Regions from separate parts of the Homo sapiens genome. Here all the other regions are linked to region 1. The links come from fine-mapping of genetic effects on gene expression. A gene starts in region 1. Each other region holds a variant in brackets. All regions are shown on one strand. Distances are between the middles of the regions.

What was found. PIP is the estimated chance that this variant, and not a neighbour inherited with it, causes the effect. A credible set is the group of variants that fine-mapping cannot tell apart.
Region 2: its variant is the best candidate, but not a certain one, in a credible set for the expression of CMTR2 in whole blood (TOPMed, PIP 0.54).
Region 3: its variant is the best candidate, but not a certain one, in a credible set for the expression of CMTR2 in whole blood (TOPMed, PIP 0.89).

What each region holds. Positions count from the first base shown.
Region 1 is chr16:71,285,472-71,293,435 of GRCh38, forward strand. CMTR2 (cap methyltransferase 2) reads right to left here and starts at 3,931. Exons shown (of 3, transcript NM_018348.6): 1 at 3,665-3,931; 2 at 3,407-3,466; 3 at 1-468. The coding sequence starts at 449. LOC102723786 (a long non-coding RNA gene) reads left to right here and starts at 3,329. Exons shown (of 4, transcript XR_933707.3): 1 at 3,329-3,484. RefSeq lists silencers at 3,684-4,053, 4,134-4,203.
Region 2 is chr16:71,243,774-71,251,737 of GRCh38, forward strand. No RefSeq gene overlaps it. Among named protein-coding and RNA genes, the nearest start is that of HYDIN, 17 kb to the left of the region's middle. The variant A/G (reference allele first, on the strand shown) is at 3,682.
Region 3 is chr16:71,254,247-71,262,210 of GRCh38, forward strand. No RefSeq gene overlaps it. Among named protein-coding and RNA genes, the nearest start is that of HYDIN, 28 kb to the left of the region's middle. RefSeq lists a silencer at 1,539-1,775. The variant A/C (reference allele first, on the strand shown) is at 4,023.

The sequences.
Region 1 (7,964 bases):
AAAGCTCCTGGAGCTTCACAAAGGTGTAGAGAATTCAGTTTTCCATTCTGAAAAGCTTCCTGTGGAATAAGTGGAAAGCTGCACAAAATCTCATGGAACTTACACCATGCTTGAGTACAAAGTTCAGCATTCACAGATTTTCTAACATGAGAAATGATTTTCCCCGCTTTATTAGTGAAAGCAGTGTGCTCATGCCACTCATCCAGTTTCTTATCACTCAGTAGGTTTTTTACTTCATTTAGGGAGTTCTTCAAATCAAGAAATGCATTAAGTTCAGTGTGGTCACAGGTGAAAATCTCACTGGGATCTGGTAACTGCCACTCATTATTAAGTGGCTTGCCATAAGAAAAGTTCTTGGCAAAGAGTTCAAAAATGTCAGCAAGAATATCTGGGCTGAATGACGCGGGACTTGCTAGCTGCTGAACTGGTGTCTTTCTGCACTTACTCATTTTCAAATCAAATTAAAATCTAGGAAGAGAAAACACATAATTAAATGAATCAAATTTATTAGTGAGCGAAATCTCATGAGCAGCAAATACGATCACACTCATGACAAACTCCATAAAATGGGAAGGCTAAAGTCAGCATACTCTGTTATTTAACCAAGTAATCTGGAATAATGAAAAAGGCTTTGATATCCAAGACCTGGGTTCAAATTCCAGCTCTGCTAATTATGGCTTAATAAGCACCCTTGGGCAAATTCCATCTCTTGGATTTGGTTTCTTCTCATTAAAAAAAAAAGCCTATCATTTTTTAAGAAGAAGATAAAACATACTAGCATATAAAAAACATATAACAAAGCATAATCATCAGTGAATGACAGCTCTGATTATCATAGTAACCCATCTAACTCTTCCCCAAAGTTCTTCCCTACCAATGACTGTGACAACACCTACATGACCTCAAACAAATCCATCCTTAGAGATTCATCCCTGGACATGACCTTTGTTCAAGCTCTAACATGTGACTTTTCGTTTTTTTTTTTTTTAGTTCCCGTCATACTTTACCTCCTTCAGGGAGAGGATCATGTACCTGAACCCAGTACTGATCCTGCCACAAGCCACTTACCTCACTAGTAGGATTGTTGAATACATCCTCTGTCCAGATTTCATTCTCTAAGACAGGCACTTTGGTGGTACCAATCACCTATACAGGTCATCAACTAACGTTCATCATCATACTGCTTGTAAACTGTGCTGTACTTGAGTGGTTAGCCTTTTTCTGCTTGATGCTGAAAGTGACCAACTGTTTACCCGGTATGTCTCAAACTATAGATTCCTGGCTTTCATATGGTTCAGACAGCTCCACACTTCCACCATAACATATCATTATTTCTTCTAGCCACTAAAACTTAACACTTGGATAGCAGAATTTTATACTGAAGAAATATACATATTGAATATACAAATTACAAATAGTCACTCTACATACTCTGGCAGTCAACACTGCCAAAGAAACCAGAAACAAAGAAACCTCTTCCTTCTGAAGAGGAAAAAGGATATGAGAAGTATGGCTTAATGGCATAGTTTTGGAAAAGTTACAAATTCCAGCAGGGAGAGCAATGAATATTACATGGTACCTGTTAGTGCAATGTTAATCAATAGATGCTTTAGTTCACAAATTCTGCACTTATTTAGCATACACAATGCATTCTACAAATGATTTTCAAAAAAATCTGAATTTGTTAAATATGAAAAAATTGGCAATCAAATCATCACTCCAGAAAAGCAGATGTTCAAGGACAAAATGAGAAACAAAGGGAACTACTGCTGTAATACATACAATAATATTCAGATGATGTTTCTTTTAGCATTTACTTTGTACTGTTCTTTTAGCACACTTTTTTCATTCTTTCTTATTTTGTTTAAATTATTTGCAAGTCTACTCTACCAGTTTGTAATTTCCTTGAAGTAACAGGTGTCTTCTTAGTCATTTGTTTGCCACGGTATATTTATATTAAAAAAAAGTTTTTTTTTGAGACAGGGTCTCACTCTGCTACCCAGGCTGGAGTGCAGTGGCACAGGTCATAGCTCCCTGCAGCCTTGACCTCTTCCCAGGCTCAAAGGATCCTCCCACCTCAGCCTCCAAAGGAGTTGGGACTACAGACGTGCACCACCACACCCAGTTAGTTAAAAAAAAAATTGTGGAGATGGGGTCTTGCTCTGTTGCCCAGGCTGGTCTCAAAATCCTGGGCTCAAGCAATCCCTCCAACTCGGCCTTCCAAGGTGCTGGGATTACAGGTGTCAGCCACTATGCCTGTTTTTTGTTTGTTTCTTTTTTACTGGTAGAGCTATATTTAGACAAATTTCTAAAGGAAGACAAAACTGAGGTGTTTCCACATTCACTAAAATCTTAAAATAAGGGCATATAAAAGTTTTTTTCAACAAGCTCCTCTGTCTTAATTCGCATTGTGCTTGCTGGAAACTACAGCCATGTTTAGATCTCATCTATACTCTATTTCGGAAAAAGTCTAATTTTAATCATTAACTTCACATACTAATTAACGGCTGTAGTTAAGCTGTGAAACCTTACCTAAGCTAATAGGAAATTACCTTCACATGAGGACAACTTAAGTGATTCAGACACTCCACCGTTCTGACTATACTTTTGCTGTGTTGCCACCTAATTTTTATTACTACTCCCTTACTCACTACTCCAGCCAAACAGGCCTTTCTGCTGTTCACTGAAGACACCAAGCACATTCCAAGACAAAAGTCTTTCTGCATTGGTGGTCCCTCTGCCTGGAATGCTCTTTCCCCAGCTGTCAGCACAGCTAACTCCTTCACCTCCTTCCAATATTTGCTCAAATGTCATTTTCTCAGTGAAGCCTACCTAAGATTGCATCTTGCATTCCCCATGCCTCTTACCTCGCTGTATTTTTTTCCTATGGTACTCATGTACTTCCAACCTATAACTTCCTTCTTTTTGTTTACTGTTTATTATTTGTCTTCCCCAAACTAGAATGTAAGCTCCACAGGACAGAGATCTTTGTTTTGTTTACACATAGACCATTCCAAGAAGTTGGACATTGCCTGGTACACAGTAAGCACTCAGTATTACTGAATAAATGAGTGGATATCATACTTAGCACAAAAGGGATCTCTCTCTTCAGGTTCTGAATATGAGTCATTAATAGTGCACCTCAACTTCACTCCAGCACTTAAATGCATGACTTAAAAAAAAAAAAAAAAGCATGTGGCTTACAGCGTGTGTGGAAAAATTTTCCAGTATATGATCCTCTGAGCCTTTCATTAAACAGTCCTTTGAGCTTTGTGACATCATAATTCTGCTAAGTGGGTCGCTATTACCATTCTCATATTGCAAACTCAAGTAGGCAGTTATGTAGCCCCCGCCCAAATTAGTGAACCCAAAACAAAACCCACAAGATCTCATCAACAGTTTTTACCTCACAGCTGACACTTATAAAGGAGTTCCAAGTGCTTCCGCCAACTCCTCCTACCAGCAACTGTGAAAACAACGGCCAGTGAGTATCCAGGGCTGACTTTGGGCCGGGCACCCCATATCTCATTTCATCTAGTGAAGTAAGTCCCAAACCCCACTCCAGAGGCCCGGTCCCTGACCTGGAGGAAACTCAGTCCCAGCCCCTGGCTCACCCGCTGGGAAGTCGAAGGAGGGCCCGGAATCGTACCCAGGCCTGGATTACCTTCGCCCACGCCCACTGGGGCCCCAGTGTCTGGAGAGGCTGCACTTTACTCTCTCGAGGAAGCCATTCTGCACTTCCGCTCTCGGGGCTGCTTCCCGGGATGGTCCCTCCCTTTGGGTCCGCGGCGCCTCCAGCCACAAGGCAGGGAGATGGTGCGCCGGACTGGGGGGAAGGCTGTCCGGACCCGCCCTCGCGGCACCGGGAAGCCAGTCCCACCTCCGGGCCCCGCAGCCGCGAATGCCGGCAGACAGGGACCAGGAGGCACTCAAGTCCCACTGCGCACGCGCCCTGTAGGCCGGGCCGGAGTCACGTGCGCCAACGTTACGCACGCCGGCGACTCTCGCCTCGCCTAGGCCTCAGCTCCCTAGGTTTTGCTTCGCGGAGTACAGAAGCTGGGAGGCGCCAGCCTCCCGCCCCCGGCCACTATGGCAACGGAAGCGGCGCGCGCAGGCGGAGCATTCTTTGGCTCCGTCCCGAAGAGGGGTGAAAGGGAGAGGGACAGGGAGGCGAAGGGGAGGGGGAGGGGGAGGGAGGGAAGGGACGGGGCAAACCTGTCTGTCAGGACGTGCTGGTTCCGCTCACTGGCTGCTGGCCCCAAGGGCTTTCAGACTCTTCTGGACAGTTGTTACTTCCTGTACAGACTGGGTTGAAACTGCAGCTCAAAAGACGATAGGTTAAAAGCCAAACTAGGGAACTGCAAGATAAGATTGTTTATATATACATGACATAATATATATTAATTATGTTGCTTAATAAGCCAATAAGAAAAAGGCCAACAACCCCAGAAGGAAAATGAGCAAATATTAGAACAGGCCTCCCAAAAAACAAAAAAGTCAAACAAATAGCCACTAAGGATATACAAAACTGTTTAAACTATTATTAGACAAGAATGGAAATGAAAACAGCAAGTTTTCTTTTTACTCGGTTTAGCAAAGATGTAAAACCTTGGTAATGACCACTGTTGGTGTGACTATGGGGAAACAGGTTTACATCTGTGGATGGAAGAAAAACGTTATTAGAAACCTTACGGAAGGCAAACTTATTTATTTGTTTGTTTACTGAAACAAGGTCTTACCCTCACCCAGGCTGGTGTGCAGTGGCTCGATCTCGGCTCACTGCAGCCTCAACTTCCCCGGGCTCACGCGATCCTCCTAGAGAGATGGCATCTCCCTATCTTAGGCTGGTCTGGAACTCCTGGACTCAAGCGATCCGTTGGTCTCGGCCACCCAAAGTGCTGGGATTACAGGCATGAGCCAAGCCGCCTAGCCCAGAAGGCAAACGTTGAAAAGAGACATGCACTTTGGCTGGGCGCAGTGGCTCACGCCTGTAATCCCAGCATTTTGAGAGGCCGAGGCGAGCGGATCACGAGGTCAAGAGTCCGAGACCAGCCTGACCAACATAGTGAAACCCCGTCTCTACTAATAATGCAAAAAATTAGCCAGGCGTGGTGGCGGGCGCCTGTAATCCTAGCTACTTGGGAGGCTGAGGCAGGAGAATCGCTTGAACCCGGGAGGCGGAGGTTGGAGCGAGCCGAGATCTCACCACTGCACACCAGCCCGGGCGACAGTGCGAGACTCCGTCTCGGGAAAAAAAGAGGACATGCATTTTAACCCAGCAATTCCTCCTCCTCGCAGTTTATCCTTAGGAGATAATTAAACAGCTGGCACTCACTTTGGACAAAATGTTCATTTCAGCATCTCAATAACATAGCCAAATGGAAATACTCTAAATGTCTACTTTAAGAGAATTAATTAAATTATTACAGTACATCTATATAATGCACATATATGCATTATATGCAGCCATTAATAGGCTGTATGTGTCAACAGTATTGCATGAAAATAGAAGAATATTAGAATTATGTGTAGAGTTTTTAACCATTTATGTAAATAGATATATAGACATAAATGTAAAATTCATTTTTTACAAGTCTTCCAGAACATGGACCAATGGAGAAAAGATTATATTTTCACAAAATAGTGGTAGGTCATTTGTGTCTCTCCATGCAAAAAAAATTGTATTTGGACCCTCCTTACATCATAAACAAAAATACATTTCATTTGGATTGTCAGTCTGTATTTTAAAAGTTAATAAGAAAACATAAGAGAACATCTTTGCAACCTTGAAGTAGTCAAAAAGTTTATAACAGGACACAAAATACTAATCATAAAGGAAAAATGTATAAATTGAACTATATTAAAACTAAAAATATTTAGAGCCTGTAGTCCCAGCTCTAGGGAGGCTGAGGCAGGAGGATGGCATGAACCCAGGAGGTGGAACTTGCAGTGAACCGAGATTGCACCACTGCACTCCAGCCTGGGTGACAGAGCGAGACTCCGTCTCACAAAAAAAAAAAAAAAAAAAAAAAAAGAAAGCACGGGCTGGGTGTGGTGGCTTATGCCTGTAATCCCAGCATTCTGGGAGGCCAAGGCGGGCAGACTGCTTGAGTCCAGGAGTTTGAGACCAGCCTAGGCAACATAGTGAAACCCCGTCTCTACTGAAAAACAAAAAATTAACCTGGCATGGTGGTGTGCACCTGTAATCTCAGCTACAAGGGAGGCTGAGGTGGATCACCTGAGCCCAGGAGGTTGAGGATGCAGTGAGCTGAGATCACACCACTGCACTCTAGCCAGTACAACAGAGTGAGACCCTGTCTCAAAATAATAATAAAGTACAGGGATTTATTGCAAAGTGAATAGCATTTATACAAGTAAGTGCTATATTGTGTGGTACAAGTTAAGTGTTGTAGGAGTCTAAAGAATGAAGTTAGTAGGAAAAATATAGGAAAAGACTAGGGAAAAAGAAACTTTAATTTCTGTTCTTTTAAGGGTGAAGTTACGTGGGGAAGGGGAGTGCCAGCCTAGCTCAGGAAAATAATGAGTGAAAAAACAGGCAAGAGGACAGGTAATGTAGATTTGCAGAAAAGGGATGGAAAGTTAATACGTTTAAATGCTAAATAGGTGGCTTAGGTGCTATATATAGTGTCTTAGCTTGGGCTGTGTATTAGTCTGTTCTCATGCTGCTAATACAGACATACCTGAGACTGGGTAATTTATAAAGGAAAGAGGTTTAATGGACTCACAGTTCCACATGCCTGGGGAGGCCTCACAATCGTGGCAGAAGGCAAAGGAGAAGCAAAGGCACGTCTTACATGGCGGTAGTCAAGAGAACTTGTGCAAGGGAACTCCCCTTTATAAAACCATCAGATCTCATGAGACTTATTTACTATCATGAGAACAGCATGGGAAAAACCTGCCCCCCATAATTAAATTACCTGCCACCAGCTCTCTCCCACAACATGTGGGGATTATTACTTTAAGAGTTAAAGAAAGAGGAAAGAAATATGAAACAAGGCTTAACAGTCAAAGACAGGTTTATTTTAGAGAAAAAACCTGAGGGGGCTTCTGGCTGATTTTGGTCAGGAGCACTTTCTCTTCCCGACTAAGAGTATAAATTGGTTTTAGGGTGAGCAGGTTTATCACAAGCTTGGATGTTTCTTTGGGGGTGGGGGGAGAAGTTTATGGTGGGGTTGGAATGTTTCTATTATCTTGGCCTGACATCTTCCTGGCCAGAGGGGAGTTATCTGAGGCTAGCATCTTCCTGGCCAGAGGGGGCTTATCTTGGGGCTAGCATGTTTCTGATCAGGGAGGAGTTTGGAATGTTTCTGGTCAGAGATGTTATTTGTGGTTTATGTTCATGCTGACCTTAGCCATTAGGCTGATGCCCTTTGGATTTAGGTGGTTTTTGATTAAGGTGAATTTTTAAATGACAGTCCTTGTCCAAGATGGCGATACTCCTGCTCTGTCAATTATAATTCAAAATGAGATTTGGGTGGGGACACGGAACCAAACCATATCAGGCTGTTACAACAAATACCAGAGAGTGTGGCTTAAACATCAGAAATTTGTTTTCTCAAGTGGGAGATTAGAAGTTCGAGATTGAGGCTCTCTTACTGGCTTGCAGATGGCCAGCTTCTTGCTGTATTCTCACATGGTGGAGAGAAAGCAAGCTCTCTTGTCTCTTCTTCAAGAAGGGCACTAATCCCATCATGAGGACCACATCCCCCTGGCTTCACCTAAACCTAATTACCTCCCAAAGGCCCCATTTCCAAATACCATCACACTGGGGATTAGGGAATTTGGGAGGGTGGTGGGATTCAGTCTTTAGCAGGTATTGAGGAACCAGAGTACAGAAGACCATGGAAGGCAGACTGAGGCACCAGATCTGCTGCAATAAGAAATGGTCAAGAGGGAAAGAAATAACTAAGCTTGGTTCTTACAGAGTTAGGAACAGTCATGGC
Region 2 (7,964 bases), 42 kb before region 1:
TTCATAAATGGACTGGGATGGATATTAGGAGGAAACAAGAAAGTCAAACTTAAAAGCACCCCATTACCCTTATCCTCCCATTAAGACCAAGCCTGAGGCTTTGATGAGTCGTCAGGCCTCTGGCCTCATTAGAAAAGCAGATGGATATATCAGAGGGGTTAATGGCAGCCAGTGATGACCGTGATCTGATTTAGTCCTAGCTCTTGACCCTCCAGAGATGATGATGACTTTGAAAACTGAAGGACTGACTTTTGGTGGGGAATGAACAAGGCAAAATCTAAAATTATGTTACGATTTAAAAAAAAAAAGAAAAAGAACTCCCCCATACAGGAATAGAACCAAAAAAAAGGAGAAACAAAAATTAAAACAGAATAATAGCAATGTTGCAGACTGTTTGTTAAATATTGCCTATCTGCACTAAGAAAAGTAGTCATGCCGCAAATAAAACAGCAAAAAAAAAAAGAAAGAAAGAAAGAAAAAAAAAGCATTTCAAAATATTCTTAGTGGTTCCATTAATGAGGGCAAAATTGAAGTCTAGTGGAAGAACACAGTGGCTGATGTGTGTGTGTGTGTGTGCACGCGCACGCACACCCATGCTCATGCATACCTCTTGAGAGCCGAGGTAAAGATGAGGACACAAACCTAAATCCACATAAAGTGGAATACAGGCCATGTTTTTCTGTGTGTTCTTCGTCTTTCTGACCAATTTGGTCTATATCAATGTCTGCACCCTGCCACAAAACCCTTAATAAACAGTCTTAACTTACGCTACTGGCAACTGTAACTGCCAGAGTTATCAAGAGCCATGGAAGACTGAAACCTTCTCTACCATGAATAAATGGGACTCCCAAAGAGGGTGACAATACCAGTGGTTTGGTTACAGCTGCTGCTTGTATCAGATGATCCATAGATGTTTTCCCACCCCAGAATAACAGTTTTTGTTCCTCTCTGAGGAATGAGTTTGGTTATTAGCTCAGGAAATGAAACAGTTTCCAAATCAGTGGTGACTATTTCTGCACAGTCTCTGCCTTTTCCCATAGCACAGCTTCATTGAGCTGGTAAGAGCTCAGTCTTCATAAATATGTAAAGACAGCATTCATCTTCCTGATTAATTAATCCAGTAACTGATCCAAGCTCTTGCCTATGAGTGCTCTTGGACCCATGGCTCCTATTCTCTCCACTCTGGTTTCCCCACCTGGGTCAGCCCTTCTCTTCATCTATTGTTGGGTAGCGTATAACAAAAGGGGTCCCTGGTCTAGACTGTTCCCACGTTCTCCAGCAGGCTGCCTATGAGAATTTCACAAATTCCTCATGCACTTTTAAATTTTAATAACGAAGATTGTGGATTTATGTGAATAGCGACAGATGGAATCTGAAAGCCAATTAATTTTGTCATTAAAGTATAATATAGGACAGCCGTATTACACAATCAAGCATGATGAATTATTTTTACATCCTGTGACATAGACAACTGGCTATCCCATGAAAGAAGGAATTCAATTTGCATTTAAATGCCATTCCCAGAATGTGACAGAGGCTCTCTGCATTATATAAGTTTCAAGAAGCTGAGGTTTGGCCAATTAATTTTAAGAAGTGTTTGTGATTGAAGTGCAAAAATGAATGGAGAAGTCAATACCTCAATGAAGGATCTTGTGAATGGCCCTCAGCCAGGGGAACCAGCCGCGCTGTGCAGGGGATTCCTGACCCACAGCAACCAGGAGATAAAAGGTGCTCTTGTTTTAAGCCACTAAAAAAGAAAAAATGAGTTGGGATCTTGTTGAACATCCACACACACACTTCTGGGCAAGTATATTTTCTCCTTACCATCTTCTCAGCTTTTCTAAACTTGATACAAACGATGCAGCAAGTGGGCAGGGTGTGTTCACCACCCTTTGGGCCATGGGTACCTGGAGAGAGATATGCATCCCCAGTGAGGTCTACACATTGTACACGCATGTGCATGTATGCACACACACAAATATACACATAGTTTCATTAACTCTTCTGGAGAAAACAATTTAAGAAAATGCCAACTTCTTTTTCAGCTAATTAAATGCCTATAGCCCATTAATTATAGATTAAGGGAACTAGTGTTTACCACAAAGTCATCTGGAGCTAGCATCTGAAGAGGTTGAATTCCATACTGAGAAGTTGGAACATTATTCTGTATGTGACAGAAAACCATTCTAAGATTTATGAAGATGGAGTTGGTATTAAACCACTAGTAAGTTGAAACTACTAAGAAGAATAAAATGGAGAGGTAGGGAAGTGGAACCTGGCAAACCAGTTGGGGCTATGGTAATCATTTATGGAAAAAATAATACGGGGTTAACCAGAGGCAGTATGGATAAGAGAAGGGGGGAATATGGAAGCTCTGGGGCAATGGCTTCTTAGAAATTGACTAGGTGGATGGAGGATGGAGAAGAAAGAGTAGATGCAATTTCTAGCCTTCATGACTGTGTGTGTGATGAGGCCATTAATAGAAACAGCAACTATAGGAGGAAACACAGGTTTGAGGAAGAGGGAAAAACGATCATACTCTCACTTTTTAAACAATTTACTTACTCCTTTGATATGATGGGATGACAATACTACTTTACCTCTATGATCTTCCTCCCCCAAACCCATAACCCCAGTTTAATTATGTGAAAAACAACAGAAACAGTCCAATAGAGGGGCACCCTATAATACCCTTGACCAGAACCCCTTAAAATTGTCAAGGTCAGCAAGAAAAGTCTGAGAAACTGTCAGATGAGAGAGGAGCCAAAGGGGACAGGATGGCTGAATGCAATGTGGGACCCTGGAGGGGATCCTTGAATAGAGAAGGTCAGATATTAAGTAAAAACTAAGGAAATCTGAATACATTGTAAACTTTAATTAATAATAATGCATCAGTATTGGTTCATTAATTGCAACAAATGTATCATAGTAATGTAAAATGTTAATACTAGGAGAAACTGGAGAGTGGGGTTTGGGGAGAACCTATGAGAACTCTGTAAAAACCCCCTTATAAAGAGGGGTGGGAGGCTTGCTTACTAAAGTTTTGTTTGTTTGGTTAGTTGATATTTTTTTCTTTTTGGGGACAAAGTCTTGCTCTGTTGCCCAGGCTGGAGTGCAGTGGCACCATCACAGCTCACTGCAGCCTTGATCTCCCAGGGACAAGTCATCCTCCCGCCTCGGCCTCCTGAGTTGCTGGGACTACAGGTGCATGCCACCACGTCTGAATAATTTTAACATTTTTCTGTGGCGATGTGGTCTCACTGTGTTTCCCGGGTTGGCCTCAACTGGTCCTCCTGCCTTGTCCTCCCAGACTGCTGGGATTATACATGTGAGCCCCCATTCCCAGCCATTTTAAAAACTTTTGTGGCCGGGCGTGGTGGCTCATGCCTGTAATCCCAGCACTTTGGGAGGCCGAAGTGGGTGGATCACGAGGTCAGGAGTTCAAGACCAGCCTGGCCAAGATGGTGAAACCCTGTCTCTACTAAAAATACAAAAATTAGCTGGGCATGGTGGTATGCGCCTGTAATCCCAGCTATTCGGGAGGCTGAGGCAGAGAATTGCTTGAACCCAGGAGGCGGAGGTTGCAGTGAGCCAAGATCGCGCCTCTGCACTCCAGCCTGGGGTACAGAGCAAGACTCCATCTAAAAACAAACAAACAAACAAAAAACACCTTTTGATATC[A/G]GTAACCCATCATGGGAGTTGGGGGACACCGATTAAATAAGCTCTTGTTCCCCATGTGCAATTACTCCATTACAGATTAGACCACATCACTGATAACGACCACCTACCTGGATGAGAAAGCTGAGATGGCCGAAAGCAACTCGTTGCCTTGCGTAAAAGCTACAGTTTCTTGTACTGATGTTGAAATGGCCAGAAGGGGCATGTATGAGTGACGTAGTCATGTGACTGTGGAGGGGAAAGCCAGCCTGAGAAGGACATGTTTTTTTCAATGGCCGAGTTGGAGCTGCAAAGGTACTATGAATTCATACTTCAAAACTGTGCCTTTGAGTTTGTTTGCTTGTTTGTTCTCTGTGTGTATGTGTGTGTGTGTGTGTGTGTGTGTGTGTGTAGATGAGGTCTCACTATGTTGCCCAGGCTGGTCTCAAACCCTGGGGCTCAAGCAATCTTCCTGCCTTAGCCTCCCAAAGTGTTGGGATTACAGACAGGCATGAGCCACTGCACCCTGTGTGCGTGGCAGGGGGAGGGGGTGAGTGGCTGGGTGGGCGTGTGATTGCTGGGCCTTTGGATTTCATCCAGCAAACACTCACCTCCTGGGCAAGCTGGGTACTGTTAGATATTAGGGATATGAGGATAAATGTGTGAATGCGCCATGTCTGCTGCCCATAAGGAGCTCACAGTCTACTCTACAGACAGGATGGCGAATAATTACAGTACATTGCTAGAGCCAGGATGTTCTGTGTTAAAAAGAAAAAGAGTGTTTTGGAAGTGCTAAGACAGGAACAATGAACTCTACCCAGGAGGGTGGTGAGAGAAGGCAACACCAAAGAAAAAGCTTGTGAACTGGGCCTCCAAAAATAAGTAGGTTCTTGCCACGTTGAGTGGGAAAGGTACTGTAGGCAGATGATTCAACATTTGCAAAACACAACGACATTCAACAGCATCATGTGCTTGGGTAAGTGGCAGCTGGAGCATCCGGCAAGGGATTCACAACCTGGGAGCTGTGAGAAAGGTCTGTTAGGGAGAAGAAGGGCTGAAATCAGGGAGACCAGGTAGGAGGCTACTGTCATAATTAAGGCTGGAGAGGATGAAGCTCTACAATCATGGGATAATGTTAAAAGATGCCCTCACTCCTACCTTCTCATTTCTCCACCAACACATTCAAGCCAAACAAACTTGAGTCCCCAAAGGCCTCTGCTCTTGGCAATGCAGGAAGGCCTAGCATCTGTTTCTTGAGCAGCAGAAGCCAGACGTTGGTAGGGCCCAGGCTTCTTATTCGAGAGCCCCAAGGTACAGGCCCGTGCCCATTCCAGAGCTCACTGGGGAATTCCACGCACATGCCCACCATATGCTAGGTAACTTTTTCTCTCCAGTACAAGTCCTCTCTGTTCTGCCTGCTAGAAGGGGCCCTTTCTAGCAGGCAGAACTGCTAGAAAGCAGCTTTTCCAGGAGCACTTCGACATAGCTTCCAATTTTGAAGCTGAGAAGCTGTAGAGAGGACTGATTAACAGTCTTTTTTGTTTCCAAGAAGACATAGACAGCGCCATGGACATGCCCGTTTCCTCTTCTCTTGAAAACAGTGAAGAAAACCTATGGCAGAGAGTTTGCTCAGAAGCCAGGTGGCCTCATGAAACCTCAAGGGTTTAGCCTCAAATCTCCATTGTTGTTGTCAAGGGACAGCTCGAGGAACTCAAGCCCTGTGATCTGGTACGATGGTTCCTGTTGGCACTGTGGCCCCATGGCTTTGCTGTCCTATTGGTGCTGCGAAGAGCCAGGTAGCGGGATGGGGAAGGCTTACTTTGAATCCTGGCTCTATCACACACTAGATGCAGAGAGGTAGCTAAGGTCATACAACCTCAGATGACTGACTTTACCTCTCTGCATCTGTTTTCCCTTTTGTAGAAATGGGCATGTTGACAGAACCCACTGCAAAGGGCTGTTGTGAGGATTAAACCTTATGCTCTAAGTAATGTTAATATACAAAGCCTAACACATGGTAGTCAAAGTTAGCTGATAGATGCCTTTTGCAAAGTCAGCCTGCACTACTTCTACCCCCCACACACATACCAAACACAGGCTGCTTGTATGAGTAGAGGCCTAGGGGGCAGTGGTGCATCCTGGTGAAGGGTTGGAGCTCAATAGCCAGGGTTTGAATCCTAGCTACTGCACTTCCCAGTTTACAAATGAGGAACCCAGAGCCCTCACTACCGTTTTTGCTCATTCCAAACAGCTTAATTTTTTCTGTGCCCTCTTTTGTAGCTCCTATAGTCAGGCCTTCCTATTTCTACCTCTGGGGGACCTGCATGCAAAGCTTAATTCCTTTATGGATTTCTGCAAAATATTCACTCTCACTATGCATTTAATGAAGTAAGCAGCTTCCCTTATCAGTAAAATGGGAGTAATCATAGGAACTGCTTCATAGGGTTACTATAAGGAGTGAGACTCATCCATAGTGTCACGTGTAGTTAGAGTTCATTCATTCTCATTGCTATGTAATAGTTCATGTTACAAATAGACTATGATTTATTTATCCATTCTACTGTTGATGAAGATTGGGACTGTCTCCAGTTTGGAGCTATTACAAATAGAGTGGTGCTATGAAAATTCTTGTACTCATCTTTTGGTGAACATACATTTACAATTTCTGGATCAGAGGTATCAGCTTTAGTGGATACTGCCAGCAAGTTTTCCAAAGTGGTTGTTCCCATTTAAATCCAAACTAGCAGTGTATGAGAATTCAGTTGCTCCACATCTTTACCAACACTTAGTATTTTTCTGATGTTTTCATTTTAGCCATTCTAGTGCATCTGTAGAGCTATCATATTGTGGTTGCAATTCACATTTCCCTGGTGACCAATCAAGTTGAACATCTTTTCATGTGTGGACTAAACACAGTGTTGGCACACAGTTAGCATTCAACAAATGTTAGCTATTATCATTAGTACTGTTGTTCTCTGATCAGTGAAACTCAGCTTTTTCAAATGGGGACATGGGCAGAGACTTGGGGAAGGTTTTCAAATGTTAAACTTTCTTGGCCTACCATTATCATCCATGTGTGCGTTTCCCTATGCCTCCCTCTTCTCCTGGTTTATTTCTCTGTAAATAACACACATCGCCTCTCCCAGAGTGCAGACATGCTGAATAATAGGAAGCGAAAGCCAGGTGAAACTTCTGACCGGCACCCCAAACAGGTTCCCCCGCTTCACAGATGTGTCACCTCCAAGAGAAGCAGAAAGGATCCTCCCCCAGAAACCTCCTGGAATCTCATCTATCTGGCCCCACTCCCTCTAGCTTCTTCCTGATGAATGGCTTTGACAACTTTCTCATTATTAGGGCCTCTTATCCAAGTCTGACTTGAATCTTTAATGCCTTCTGTTAGGAAAGATGCATCACTTGATTTTTAGGATGCACACACAATTCCCCTTGCAGAGCCAGTATCCTGAGGGGTTTGTTAATGCATCAAACCATGGACCTCTGAGGAAAATTCCTTGTCCCCAAAACAAGAAGACAGGTTAAGCTGTACCCTCAGTTTAGCTCCCACTGGTAAACTCCATGAGAAAAGAAAATAACCAGCATTGTGTAATTGGGGGTGGAGTTACATCTTACACAATCTTTGTGAAAGGGAGAAAAGGAAGCCAGCTTAATAATTCCCAAACTAGGTCAAAAATTTATATCCATGTGTATATAAAATAGTCTTCATTATCTTATGTAATAAACATGATTTTATTATCTCAGTCACTGGGTTAAGAATTCCTTTTAGTGAGACCCAACTTTGTTGGGAAGACTTCTTGGTATAATCTCCTCATGAAATAAAACGTGAGGACCCCTGCTACCAGGGACCTTGCGGGGCAGGAATACTCCAGATAAGATAGAGAACAAATTTCCTGATTGCAACAAAGATTGAAGGGAGGAGAAAGAAAAAGAGGAATAGTGAGAAATGGAATGGATGATTAAAGGCTGTTCAGTGGAATCTGCGACCCCCTTAAGTCTCCTAGAAAGCTGCTTACTTCGTTAAATGCAGAGTGAGAGTGAATCCTTTGCAAAAACCATGAAGGAATTCAGCTTTGCATGCAGGTCCCCCAGAGGTAGAATTTAAGAAAGCCTGAATATGGGAGCCACAAAGAAGGGGGCAGAAAAAAATTAAGCTGTTCAGAATGAGCGAAAATAGTGGTGAGGGCTCTGGCTTCAGATAAGCTCAGGGTGACCAACTTGTCACAGTTTGTCCAGGATTTTTCCAGTGTTAGCCTTGAGAGTCTCACAACTCAGGAAACCCCTCTGTCCCAGGC
Region 3 (7,964 bases), 31 kb before region 1:
CTCACTGGGGTGAGGGAACTCTCTGAGGTTTCTTTCACAAGGGCATTAATCCCATTTATAAGGCTCCACTCTCATAACTTAATCACCTTCCAAAGGACCCTCCTCCTAATACCACTCCTAATACCACCATCTCAACCTATTAATTTGGGGGGTGAGTGGGACACAAACATTCAGTCCATAACACTCCCTTACAGAATACCTGTCAGTGTTAAATAAATTGAACAAAAATACTTTGTAAAATACCTTACACTTTACACTTCAGTTATCACTTATCCCATATAATTTCTGATAATTTCAGGGAGAAAATGCTTTAGTGATTAGATATAAAGTTTAGGACATTATCTACCAATGTTTAAAATTCCTATACCATACCCTTCGACGCAGCCATTCCAACTCTCCTACAGATACAGTTGTACATGTATAAAGATAAATGTGCTAGACATTGGTAATAATAATGAGAAATTGGAAACAATATGTATCAGCAATGGACTGAGTAAATAAGCCATATATATGCACACTGTGGAATACCAGCTGTTAAATGTAATGAGAAAATGTACGTATACTGACATGAAAAGATGCCCAGGATATTTATTTAAAGTAATAATAAGCAAGTTGCAGGTGTATATATGGCATGATCCCATTTCTATGTATTTATATTACACATTTTGATACATGCATACCAAAAAGACCGAAGGCCATGCATGACACTGGAGAACAGTCACTAGGGTCTCTATGCGTGTCACTTACCTCTGGGGAAAGTGACTGGTGTTGCAGAGAATTACTTTCACTTCCTCCTTTATATGCTTAGGAATTCTTTGAATTTGTGTAACAAACAAAATACATTTAAAGACATACCACAAACCAATCCCTGAGCCCTGAGATTCTTAAGAGGATGGGGGCACCAGGAACATAAATCATACTGCCAGGCCAGAAAACAATGTCTCTGTTGGGTTCCCAACTATATTTCAATTCTGCAAGCCACAGCTGTGCTTCCCACCAACCCAGGCGCTAACACAACAGCAGCAGTCCAGAAAGGGGAAAACATAGGCCCTAGAGTAGGGCCACTTTGGGTAGGAAAAAAAAGTGCAAATGTATTCTGAAAGCAGATGGTGTCTGGAAGAGAAAGTGTGTTTGGCAACAAGAAGGGAATCACAGGGGAAGGAGAGAAAAGCAGTAAAAGAGAGACAGCCAAAGGAGGTGGTAATTAAGTGCAAAGCTGAAGATTTCCAAGGGATTTTTCAGCATTGGCAAGAGTCGGGCCTCTGGACAATTCTGTGGAAGTGTGTAGAGATTGTTTTTCATTTCTTTTCTTTATTAAAAGTATTCCACTAGAACAGTGCCTCTGAACCATGATATTCTGACAAGAGTTTGTTAGCAATGCTCCAAGTATTAAAGTTTTCCAATAATTTACTTTTCTTTATAAAGAGGAGCTGAGGTTGGCTGTCTCCTTGCTGCCATTCTAATATGCTTCCTAGGGTGGGAGACAAAGCCACAGCCAGCCAGGGTTGAGCGAGTTGTGTACAACCCACACACTATTTGTCTCGCCACCTCCTGACACTGTCACTCTTCTCCGGGCTCTGGAGCTTCCTGTGGGGTCACTGTCTGTAACAGACAAGAGTCACACCCTTCTCAACCCTTTTACAGCATTAACCAAGGCACAAGCGTCTGAACTGTCCAATAACAAAGAGATTAATTGATGGATTGTTTTGTACCAAACTGCTTGCTGCCACAGCTGCTCAAAATGTTAATAAGCACTGCTGAACTATGGCCGCTCCAGCAGGGAACAGCTGTAGAGGCTAGAGGCCAGCTCCCCTGCCCAGTGAGGGACAGATGTCCTTATGTCTATATCGGCCCCTGTGCTCAAACCAGCAACAGTTCACAGACAGGATTATGAAAGGTTTTGCATTTGGTCCTAAGTAATCTTTTAATGTCACATAACCTGAACCAAAGCCAAGAATACATTATGACAGTACAAATTATCAACTCTATCTTTGAGATAAGATGTATATTATGCACTAAACTCAAGGTCAGGAGACAAGTCTTCTACTCCAGACATATCAAAGCCTTTCTGGGTCTTATAAAATGGGGCTTGTGATTCAAGTTTACTTTCAACAGGAAGCTTTTGGTTTAAATGAGTTCAAACATTGCATGTAAAGCGCTGAGACTTCAGATACTTGTAAAATAAGCTCAAGTTTAATCTCACATTATATATATATATAACGTATAATAAGCTCAAGTTTAATCTCACATTTTATATCTATACATACAATATGTGTGTATGTATGTGTGTGTGTATATATATAGATATGGAATAATAAATTAGATAGTCCTTTCTATATTCCACCTGTATCTCACTTACCCCACTTGAAGGTAGAGTTCACTTGTAAATATGTCAGCTGCCTCTCTCAGATAAGGACTTCTTTTTTTTTTAACATGACTACAATGACTTTGTCACGTATAACAAAATTAACAAGTCCTTGATATCATCTAATTCTCAGTTCATATAAACTTCCCCCAACTCTCTCAAAATGTGTTTTTACAACTGGTTCATTTGAACCAGAATACACACAAGGTTCACTCATTGCATTACATACACACACACTCACACACACTCATACACACTTACATATTTTTCTCTAGTTCTATCCACTAGGAGTGTAAAAGGGGCTGGGAGCAATAATGCCCTAACGGTAATGACACCTGATCTTGGTTTCTAAATACTATTCTTTACTAAAAGGAATCAGAAGTCCTTGGAGAAATGTCTGTTTCAAGAGTTGGAGTAAAGAGAACACCAGATATGCCTGAACATGCTGAGCCAGAAAGCAAGGATGCACTCATGCACTCAAAGAAAGATGGGGTGTGCCAAGTGGACACAGAAGCCAGATTGATGGAGGGCTGACATTTCTAATCTGAGAAATGTGAGCATCAAAATCAATGATGATAGTAACAAATTATCTACAACTCATTGAATAAAATGAGAATCCAGGAGTCCAACTGATATAAATAAATGAATAAAATGAATGTTTGACGAGGAACAGGATATTTAAATATTTTCAAAGTATCTCCTCATAAAATACTTGTTAGTTACAAAGAGAAGAGAAACTTCACAGTGAAGAAGGCTGACAGGCACTGCCTTAATCAAGTGATCAAAGTGAACCTCATCAGAGATGGGACACACCAAAACAATGTTTCATGGGATAATAAGATGCAAAAGGAACAACACAGCTTCAGTTCTGTGATATTCCTTCCAAAACTGCACGACCTGAATCTCATCACAAGGAAGCATCAAACAAATCCAAGTTGAAGGACAGTCTACAAAGTAACTGACCTGTAATCATCAAAAGTGCCAAGGTCATGAAAGTCAGAGATTAAGAAACTATTCCAGAATGAAAAAGACTAAAGAAACTTAGGAAATAAATGCACCACATGATTGCAAGAAAAGGATCCTTTTGCTACAAAGGATGTTATTGGAACAACTGGCTTAACAGTGTTAAATTTCCTAATTTTACTGATTGGACCATGGTTATCTAAGAGTGTCCTTGTTTGTAGGAAATGCACACTGAAGTGTTCAGGAGTGATGGGCATCAGGTTGGTAACTGACTCTCAAATGGCCCAGGAGGAAAAAAGTAGTTTCTTATGCTCTACCCTGACATCTTCAGTAACTTTCAAAATCAGAAAAAGAAAAAATAAAAATACAAATACAAAGAATAACTTGCCTCATCAGCTATTTTTCCCTGAATAGAGTTCATATAGAAAAAAACAGAATAAATTCTTGATTCTGAACCTTCATTAATTTCCAGAGTAATGAGTTGGTACCATAGAAATTTAGAATGACAGTTTTCTAACGTATCATAATGAGCTCAGATATTTTTATGTTTGATATGCTTCAGTCAATTGCAGTGATTATTCTTTTTGATTCTCGTAATTGTTCCTGTTCCATTCACCACAACTCTGGCAGTCAATGGTTTTCTTCCTTCCTGAACATAACAAAAGGTTCCAGGTTCATCATTTACATTTCCTAC[A/C]CCAAACCTGGAATCAATTTTTAGACCTTGAATTCAGAGGAGAATTCCTTCCCTTTTAAATGAACGTAATTAATTCCTCTTTAAAAAAATAGATGGGCATGTTGGCTCACACCTGTAGTCTCAGCTACTCTGGGAGGATTGCTTGAGCCCAGAAGTTCAAGGTCAGCCTGGTAAACAAAGCAATAGGGAGAAAAAAATTCAGAACACTGCATTTTCTCAACTCCCTTGAAATTTGTTCCTTTTTTTCCCCTCAAATGTCTGGCTAGTTTTGGACTCCTTCCAAGAGGAATGGCACACAGAAAAGAGCTTACTCCAAGTCAGACTCTGTGGGCATGACAACCACCTGCTTCTTAGTGTAAGGAGAAGCTGGTAGAGGAGGACTAATCTAATCCTTTTATTAACTCCCTTGAATCAGAAATGACAGACAGTGATTAAATTTTGTAACTTTTCTCATTGCAAGCACTGAGAGACGGATCAGTGGGTTGACTTGTTTGTTTTATTTCTTCAGTAAAAAACCTGTACAAGTAGTAAGCAGGTCAATTTTCAGAAGCCTCTCATCCTAAAACGAGAGCTGGCCAGTGTTGCATTGTTCATCCCAGCCTCCCAGTGATCAAGTGAGGTCTTCATTATTTTGATGGAAGGAAGGAGAAAACAAAATCCACTCACTGATGCTAGAGAGAATTCATTCACTCATTCACGCACCCATTTAATTGAGAATCCACTACGCGCTGTTCTTAGTACTGAGGATATGCAGCGAACACAAAGAATAAACTCCTTCCTCTGTGGAGTTTACTTTCTAATGGAGGAAATAGACCATAGCAAGATAGATAAGTAAATTATAAAGTGCAGGAAAAACAAAGCATAAAAGGGCAATGTAAGAGAGATACAATTTTAAATAAAAGGTTTCGGGGTGGCTCCCACTAAAAAGGCGACATTTGAACAAACACTTGGAGGAGGTGACAGAGTAAGCCATGTGGTTTTTTAGAGGCAGAGAGTTCCAGGCAGAGGAAACAGCTTGTGTGAAGATCTTGACGTGTGAAAGTGCTTTGAATATTTGTGAAATTGTAAGGAAGCTGCTGTGGCTGGATGGCTCGTGCAAGGTGAAGAGAGAAGGCCAAAGACAGAATGTGAGGGCTGGGGACACAAAGCACCTAGCGCCTTGTAGGCCATTTTAAGGACTTGGACTTTTGCTCCAAGTGACATGGAAATTTGTCTCTGGTTTTTGAACAGAGGAATGACTTTACCCAACTTATTTTTCAATGAGATCACTTTGGCTGCTGTGTTGGGTATAGAATGAAAGGGAGCAAGACAGACACAAAGACACCATTAGAAAGCTATTGTAATGGTCTATGGGAGGTGATGGTTGCTAAGAAAGGGCAATAGCAGTGAAGGAGGTGAAAAGTTGTCACACTATCAATAACTTTTAAAAGTAGAGCCAACAGGATTTGCTGAAAGACTAGATACAGGAGCAAAAGGAAGAGAGGAGTCAAGGGTAATCCTTAGAGTTTTGGCCTGAGCAATTTGAAGGGCAGAGGTTCCATCCACTGACATGGTGAAGAATGTGAGAAGAGCAGGTTTTGGGGAGGTTGCTCAAGAGCTCAGTTTTGGACAAGGTAGGTTAGAGATGTCTACCAAACAGCCAAATGGAGATGCCAAGTAGGTGATTGAATATACAGTTCTGGAGTTCAGGAGAATGGTCTAGTCTGGAGACATATATTTGGCCATTGTTGTAGGCAGAACAATGTCCTCCCAAAAGATGTTCATGGGCCAATCCTCAGAACCTGTGAATATATTTCCTTACACGGCAACAAAAGGACTTTGCCAATGTGATTAAAGGATGGACCTTGAGATGGGTGATTATCCTGGATTCTCTGGGCAGGCCCAGTGGAATCAAATGGGTCCTTACAAGCAGATAACTCTTCCTGCTGTGGCCAAAGAAGGCTCCAAGAGATAAGATTTTGTGGGCTTTGAAAATAAAGGAAGGTAGCCACAAGCTCAGAAATGCAGGAAGCATCTGGAAGCTGAAAAAGGCAAGGAAACAAATTCTTCCCTAGAACCTCTAGAAAGGAAGGCAGCCCCACTGACAGGTTGATTTCAGCCCAGTGAGACCCATGTCAGACATCTGACCTAAAAACTGTAAGGTGAATTCATGTTGTTTTAAGCTGCTATAGAAAATTAATGCCAACATCATCAATATAGAGATGATATTTAAATCCATAAGAGACAGAAGGGAGACGATGTCTTGGGACTGAGCCTTGGGGTATTTGAATGTTAAGTCGGGGAAATGAGGACCCAACAGAGATGACTGAGAAGCAGTGGACACAAGATAGGAGGCAAACAGGAGAAAATGGTGCTCTAGAGGTCAAGACAACAATCTGTGTCACATGCTGCTACATGGTTAAGTAAGATGGGGATCAAATTAGGAAACAAGACAGAACAGGGAGAGCATATGTGCTCAGGCCAGCTGCTATAGAGAAGGAAGAATGTGGACCCTGGTACTTACTACAGGAGAGACAGGCAGGGTGCAGTGGCTCATACCTATAATCCCAGCACTCTGGAAGGCTGAGATCATGGGAGGATCACCTGAGTCCAGGAGTTCAAAACCAGCCTGGGCAACACAGTAAGACCCTCATCTTTACAAAAAATACAAAAATTAGCTGGGAGTGGTGGCACACACCTGTAATCTCAGCTACTCATGAGGCTGAGATGAGATGATTGCTTGAGCCTGGAGGTTGAGGCTGCAATGAGCTGTGATTGCACCACTGCACACCAGCCTGAGCAATGGAGGGAGACCTTGTCTCAAAACAAAACTAAACAAAGCAAAAACTTACAGAAGAAACACATGAATGGCACCCACTCAGAGTGCAGACTTTTTCATACAGAGGGACTCTGGTCACTAGGAAACTTGGCCCAACTAGAATACTGGAATATTTCCAATCATATTGGCACTCCTTCCCTTTGGGGAGGGAGGGTATGAAAGTCAGCAGTACAGAGGAAAGAAGAGGAAAGAGGAACAGAATGAAATTTCAACTTTCTTTTACATTATTGCCTTTCCTTTTACCACCCAACATAGTCTTAGCCCTCCAAGGCCATTACTTGTTAAATAGCACATTCCCTAACCCCAGGGCAGTTAAAATAATAGCTCAAGACCAGAATATCGTTTTCTCTTAAAGAAAATATGACCAGCCGGGCACGGTGGCTCACGCCTATAATCCCAGCACTTTGGGAGGCCGAGGCGGGTGAATCACGAGGTCAGGAGTTCAAGACCAGCCTGGCCAAGATGGCGAAACCCTGTCTCTACTAAAAATACAAAAATTAGCCCAGCATGGTGGCAGGCTCCTGTAATCCCAGCTACTGGGGAGGCTGAGGCAGAGAATTGCTTGAACCCGGGAGGTGGAGGTTGCAGTGAGCCGAGATTGTGCCACTGCACTCCAGCCTGGGCGACAGAGCAAGATTCTGTTAAAAAAAAAAAAAGAAAAAGAAAAAAGGAAAAGAAAATATGACCTCATCAAAATTAAAATACACAACCTTCCAGTACCTGGCATTTTATATCAACCATAGCTTCAGACAATGTTTTGTTTTGCCTTCCTTCACCTCAAAACTCAAGAGTTAGCTGATCATCTCTAAGAGACTGATTGAAGTCAGGTGAGGAGAACCCTTGTGACTTCAGACAAATATAGCCCTTATCACACTGTCTCATACTGAGCTGTAGTTATTTGTATACTTGTTCATCTTCTTCACCAGACTTGAAGTCCTCTGAGAGGGGAGACTGTGCCCTTTCATCACTGAATTACAAGAACAATAATTCCTGAACTTCCCATTCATTGAACTTGTCATACAAGTCAGACATGGTGCTAATTGCTTTCAGGCATTTAATTGTCAGGCAACTCTGTGAGATGGGCATTATTTATTCCATTTTGCAGGAAGGTTAAGAAATTTACA